Homo sapiens: one gene and its partner. The protein of the gene in region 2 purifies or fractionates together with the protein of the main gene of each other region. This does not show direct contact. Each region holds a gene or a part of one and is shown on either strand. Other genes may lie near its edges.

The links. The genes of interacting proteins can lie anywhere in the genome.
Region 1: the proteins of ZMYM3 (region 2) and DIS3L2 fractionate together in Homo sapiens (co-fractionation; one large-scale study listed by BioGRID). This does not show direct contact.

What each region holds. Positions count from the first base shown.
Region 1 is NC_000002.12:232,136,213-232,139,712, reverse strand, and holds part of DIS3L2 (DIS3-like exonuclease 2), read right to left. Parts: intron 3,242-3,500; coding exon 2,994-3,241; intron 1-2,993.
Region 2 is NC_000023.11:71,247,641-71,251,140, forward strand, and holds part of ZMYM3 (zinc finger MYM-type protein 3), read right to left. Parts: intron 3,087-3,500; coding exon 2,792-3,086; intron 2,564-2,791; coding exon 2,386-2,563; intron 2,040-2,385; coding exon 1,821-2,039; coding exon of another isoform or gene 1,803-1,820; exon of another isoform or gene 1,564-1,802; intron 1,530-1,563; coding exon 1,379-1,529; intron 1,162-1,378; coding exon 1,046-1,161; intron 885-1,045; coding exon 798-884; intron 673-797; coding exon 522-672; intron 267-521; coding exon 94-266; intron 1-93. UniProt on the Homo sapiens protein: Plays a role in the regulation of cell morphology and cytoskeletal organization.

The sequences.
Region 1 (3,500 bases), on a different chromosome or scaffold from region 2:
TATAAGAAATGATCCTGGATTTCCCCCTTTACCTACCTCCTCTAAATTCCCCCAAATTATTCTATTCTATGGAAGAACTTAGAACATTCTGTTTTGTACTGTAGGTAGAACTCAAAGAGATAAGCCATTCAAGCCATCTGTTTTATCCACGCTCTTTCCCAGGAGTCCCACAGCGCTGCAAATTGGGTGTGAGTCATGGATGGGACTCTGGACCCCCACCTCTGCTTGAAACTACTGACGAGGGAAAACACCTGCCTCAAGCTAGACCAGTAAGATTTTCCACCATAGAAATTCTGTATTATGATCTAGACTTTAGTATGTAACTGCCATAGGACTGGCAGTGCCATTTTGGGGCCACGTGTGCTGTTGTGCAGGTAGAAGACTACTGTGCAGAGAGAAGCAGAATAACACAGCTCATGTGCAAAAAGGGGTAAAGAAAAGATACTGTGTGGTGGCTGGGCTAGTCACAGGGGTGAAAGAGAAGCTGTGGTTCCTTTGTTGCCTTGTTAGTTCTGATTTTCTCATGAGACTTCCTCCATTTCCTGCTCTGGTTTTTAAAAGAATCACCAGCTTCTTATATTAATCTCTACTTTTATTTAAATTAGTTCAAGTGGGATTACACTTCTTAGAATCAAATTATCGCTATGATATATACATGCAAAAATCCTTTTGCATTAGACTATAAGTTCCTTAAGTAACGAATCCATAACTTGTTTACCATTGTATTTCTCAGATAATATAGCATAGTGCTTTACACATAGTTGGATCAAAACCAGCCTGGTGAACTAAATGTAACTACAGAAGAGGAAAATGACTTTGAACTTGAATAATTAGAAGCAATTACATAGGCAAAGGAAGTCCGATACTTTTAAGGAGAGAGGTATAGGAGTTGGGAACAAATTGAGAAGGAAGCCACCTTAGCTAAACTTGATTTTTAGGGATAGTTTATGTGGAAGCTAACCATAACACTTTCGCACCCACAGCAGGTATTACCGTCACACTCCTGGTCAAAGCCTGGCAAAGATAAGGGAGGAAACCTAGGCAGTCATAGCACAGCATGTTCTGATTAAGAAAAAGTGACCTCAGTTCTTAAAGATCAGTAACGGATAACCAGAACAAAATGGCAAGGCGACCACCAACATACTCAACAGCTGCAGCCCTCACCCCTCATACAACAGACGTCATTTGAGAAATTCATCAGGAAAACCTACCATGTTTTATTTCTTAAAATAAATTTTCTCTTCTTCACAAAGATTTTAAAAGGCATATTTCCATAAATGACAATTTTTATATCCTTATATTAAGAAGGTAGAGAAAAAGCATGATGTTTCCATCTAAATATGATTATCTTCATTTTTTATTTTGAAAATTACATGATTAATATGTGACTTTTTAAATATTATTTCTTTAAATCCAGCAAATGTGCTTGAGGCTTCAAAGACCTGACTCCCTTTTTGTTGTATTTTACCTTCAAGAAAAGGGTTCCTGATGAAGTAATGGCTCAGCTATAAAAAAAATAAAAATTAAAAAATACCTATAAGGCCATGAAAGTAATAAGAGAAACTCATACTATGAAGATTTCCTGACTACACCCTTACAACTTGAAAACTAAGGAAGTAGTCCAATCAAGTACACACAATGGGATACGACAGAAAGGCAGATAAAAAACAAGGCTGGATTTCCTGGTTTGATGTGAAAGTCTTCCTCTTTTACTGCCAAACAGAGTGTGGCTGCACAATCAACAGGACCAGGTGGCACAACCGTTACTGGGCCTTTTGATTTGATGGTGAGAAACGGGCAAGCTTGTAAGAAGGACTATTTAGGGCTCAAGGGGTTGACATCACTTTTGGATAATTAGTTAGGCTTAAAAATGATGACATTGCAATCACACCACTTGAGAGGAAAAAAAGAAAGTACAACTGTTCCTAAGTAGCTATGAGATCATTTAAATCACACCAATCTTCATATAACTGAAAAAGTGGCACAGGGTAGTGTTTCTTATATATGAAACACTCTTACATATGACACACACATTTGATTTGGCTTATTTTGCTAGGCATAAGAAGCTAAGTATAGAATAAACCTGATAAAAGCAGCACATTGTAGCCATCCATTCAGTGCTGACTCTCCTACCCATAGGACATTCCCAGGAGGGTGCATCCTGTACAAGTTAGATGACCAACAAGCAAGTCATTAAACTAGACTAAAAGTAAATCAACAGGCTCTTTTCTAGATTGTATACCTTTATAGTCATTTCCTGTGAAGCATAAACCAGACATCATCTATAATAAACACTTAACATAGCTAAAACTTACTGCTTTTCTTTCAATATGAATACCAGTTCTAAGAAGAAAATAGGCATAGCATTTGGTCAAACAACTGGGTCCAGCAGTTTCTTCAGATGAAAATGAAGTGGCCATCCATGATGCTCCTGGACTATGTCATGTATATTTAAGTTAGATTGATCTCTGACAGCATCCACAAAAACATGATACCCTTTTCCTTCTTACAATAGGGTAGTTTTTAATGCCACAGGCAAAATCAATACCGAAAAAGAATGCCATTTAAATATACCTTCATGTTCATATTTTAAAGCAAAGGAGCCTGGGGTCTCCTGAATATGCCTAGACTTTGCATGGTTTAACACTAGCATCTGCAAGGAGAGGACTGGTTGTTTGATGCAATGAATTATCTGTGGTACACAAGTACAAATAGGACACATGACATAACTAAATAAGTAGAGGCTCGGAATGTTCATGTTTTACGCCAAAAAACAAAAACAAGAATGTGACTGCCTGGTAATTCAAGGAACATACAGGCAATCAGTTGAGGTGGCAGCTAAGAGTGACTTCTGAAGAATCAGGACCAAAATACACCAGAAACCGTGCTTCAATAAAGAAATAATAATTAAAATACACAAAAAGTTTACCTAAAGACCACCTAAACTGAGTTCTGCCTGTGACCTGTGGTTTTTCCTACCAGAGATCACCTACCCCAGGGCAAAATTGCAGTCCTCCTTCCAGTCCACAATGCGGCAGATGAACAGTGTGTTGGCATAATCTTTAGGCCGTGCCACAAAGTCCTGGGGACAGTCCTTGAGAGGCACATAAATTCTAGGCACTCGGTGGTCTGAGGGAGAAAACAGGGCGTATTTCCTAAACAGTTCGCTGTTCTTATCAGCCAAGAGTTTGAGGAAGCCGGTTGCTGCTCGAGAATGTTTTTTCTCCAAGATGTAAACCACCTAAAAACACCAAAGATATAGTCAATGTTGTTTATCTGCAGAACTGAATTACACTTGGGAGAGGTCAGCAGGTTATAATTTGATCAACTAGCAGGAACCAGCAGTTTTTCTAGGTCAAAATAAGTGCCTCTCAGTGATGATCTGTGACTTAGTAATCTATATTTAAGTTGTAAGAAGTACCTAGTAGGCATACATATCCAAGAAAAATTATGCAATACATGGATGAATTAAATCAAAGTGCTTTTATTACCATGACCTG
Region 2 (3,500 bases):
CCTGGAGATCTGTCCACACCCCGAGCTCAGTACCACAGCCCGTGCTCCCCACTGCCCTCTTTCCCGCCTCGCTCGCATGCTGACCCTCCTTACCTTGCAGTACCACAGCAGGTACTTGCTCTTACAGTCCTCACTGCAGAAGTCCCAGGTGCTGCCATCCAGTTGCTCGGTGACTCCGCGCTGGCAGGTCTGGGAGCAGTAAGTACAAGTGATACAGCACAAGCCCAGCTTCTTAGTGAAGTCCTGTTTGTACAGCAGCACACAGCCTGGAAAGAGGAGAAGAGGAAAGAGAGTCCAGAGACACAGATACCCAAGGGCAAGAGACCCAACCTTTTCAAGGTGCTATACCTGAAACCTCTCTCTAAGCAGCCCCTTGTGCCCAAAACTTTAGGGGAGATGGGGGTAGAACATCCCGGGCAGAAGGCCCTGCCTCATGGACCACTTTCCCGGCCTCCCTCCCTTCTCCTCCATTCTCCCTGGCTGGGAGTTATAGTGTCTTCTGCCCTTCCCCATCTCCTTACCTTCGCTGCAGAAGCTTTTCTCCACTCCGCTGAATCGGAGTTTCTCATGCAAGAGTTTCTCCTGCCGACAGTGCTCACACTGGGACACCACACCCCGAAGCCGCTTGAAGTCCTCACAGCAATCACGGCAGCAGAACTGGAACACTTGGTCCTGAGGTGGGGGCACAGGGCAGGGAGGACAAGCTGTAACATCTGGCCCCAGCAGGGGCCAAGTGGAAGGACCCCTTCAGACAGTCTGGTCGTGTGGCAAGACGTGGGTGGGGGTGGGGCTCTTACCTGCCAGTCCAAGACCTCAGGCTTGCCACTGAAGAGGCTGTGACAGTAGTGACAGCTCAGGTGAATGCCCCCCTCAGGGCTTGTGCGCTGGAGGGAAGGAAGACAAGTAAGGGAGGGGCAAGATGTGTGCAGCGGTGGGGAAGGGGAGTCAGGCTTGTTCTTTGCTCTGCCCAGGCCTGCCTACCCCAATTCTCCAACCCTCTTTATGTTGCCAAACCCTTCTATCCCTGGTCCAGGGTCTGGAGTACCTGGAACTTGGTCCAGCAGCTGGGGCTGCAGAACTGGTAGACTGTGCGGTCAACCTTGTTGTAGTAACAGGGGTCAGAGAGGCTGCGGCGGCAGAAGCTGCAGGGTCGGGGAGGGCCTGGGGCATAGAGAGAAAGAGAGAGAGGAAAAGAGAAAGAGAGAGGGAGAGAGAGAGCACACAGAAGGTGTAAGGCAGTGTAAGAGACGAACAGAAAATCCATGGGGAGATGTGGTTGGGACTGAGGTCGGGCAGCAAGGATTACTCTGGAAGAGGGGAGTATGGGAGGTAGAGAGAAGGCCAGCAGGGGACTCAGAGAAGAGGGCTTTGCACCTACCAGTGAGCCCTGCCTGCTTCACTTTGTAAGAAGTGGTACAGCACAGGGAACAGAACAAGCTGGTCTTGCCATTACGATCCACATGTGATAGCATCTCAAAGTTCTTACACAGGGTCTTGCACCAGACACATGGGTACACACGTGTGTTTTTCTGTGAGGATGGGGAAGGAGAGGCTGAGGCTGGATTTGTCCCTTCACTTTTATTTTTTAAATGTTTTAAACATGAAATATTTCAGGCATACAAAAAAAGTATAGATGATGATGTAACAAAGACCTGTGTATCCACCAGCCAGCTTCAAAAATAAAACATAACGGATACAATTGAAACCCCCTTTATTTGTTTTATTTCTCCCAGCCCTTGACCCATCAGCCACCTTTATTTATAACCCAAGAACCACACCCCCTTCCACAGCCCTCTAATGCACTACTCCCTCGGCCCCACCTTCTTGTACGCCCCCAAGCAGGTTGTGTTGCAGAACCGCTTTTGTTGGCCCTCGTGGAAGAGGAGCTCAGGGCCAGGACTCCCGGTCTTGGTGTAGATGTAAGCCCCACACTGGTCACAACAGTTGGTTTTCAGTCCCTTGTTGGCCCGGAATTTGGAGAAGCAAGAATCGCTGCAGAGCCGGTGTACCACGCTGCCATTGCTGACCTCGTGCAGGACCTGCCACACACATACACGCACCCTGAGCTAGGGCCTGGCCACCACCGCCCACCCCAATGCAAGGTCAGCCCCCCACCTCACCCTAGACCTTCACAGCAGACAGTGGGCCCAGGGACCCCCCAACCTGCGCCGCAGGCTGCCGACTTGATGGTGAGGTCCTGGGAGGTAAGGAAGGCCAGCTGTGCACATCCTGGAGAAGCTCTGTCCTTGAATACGCTCCCTCATGATGGCCGCCTTTCCTCCCCACTCCCCTTTCCACAGGGCCTGGACCCTGCAGCCCCAGGATGGGAGGGGCAGGTCAGGGCTGGCCAGGCTCTGTAAATCAGCCCCCACTGAGTGTCCTCACCTCTCCAGTCTTCTGGCATATGCTGCAGCGAGTAGCGTCGGCGGGATCCCCAGACTGGGGGATCGGGCGCTGCTGCTGGGCCTCATACAGGGAGAGACAGACGGATGTGCAGAACTCATGGAAGGAGCCTCCAGAACCAGTCTGCGCCACAACCGAGTCCTTGGTGTTCCAGATCTCCCTAGAGGTGGGAACAGGTTTGAATATTCACTCAAGACCACCCTCTCATTTCCTCAGCTTCCGCCCCTCCTCCAGGATCAATGACCACAGAGCCAAATACTCTGACTCTCTCCCTACATCACTCTCTCGCCCAGCTCCATCCTGCTAGGTTCTTACCAACAGTCTCTGTCTTACTCATACTCCTGCCCAGATCCCTGCCCTCTGCATAGCCCCCAAGACCCTCACGCACTTCTTGCAGAAGGTACAGGTCTTTTTGCCCGAGGGCTTCTTGGAGAAAGTGGTGAGGCAGGATGACGAGCAGAAGAGCTGAGGCAGCCCCTTGCGCTGATAGGCAGTCTGCCCCTTCTGCAGTGGTGTCCGGCAATGTGCACAAGTCATCTTGGTGCCCACTGCAGAGCGCCCGGCCCTTTGTGACACACTTGAGCGTAGGGACATGCGAGGAGAGCGCCGGGGCCGGAATGGCACAAAGTCCTCATCATTGGGGTCATCTACCATGGCATCAGAATCCTCATCTGACACTGGAACTGAGAAAGTGGGGGGATGGACATGAGAAAGGCCACCAAACCAGGTCTCCAACCATCCCCTGACCAACAGTTCAGTCCCTCTCCTGGGATCCCTGTTGTTCCGGCCTTTACACCCTGGCCCTTGTTACATCAGTATCTTAAGACCTTGGTGTCTCTCTCCCTTGGTTACTCTGTAACCTCCCAGGGAGGGAAAGGGAGAGGCTCTAAATGAGAAGATTCGGAGACAGAGATGGCATAGCTGAAACAGGAAACTCGCCATTCTCACTGCTCTTGTTTTCAATTTCCCCCACTGCCCCTGGTTCCCATGCCAACCCATAGCAGAGACAGGCACTTCATGCGCTTCATGGAGCAGGACGGCAGGAGCTAGAAGATCCATGCCCTGCCGCATGCCACTTTCGGACCTTTTCCACACCC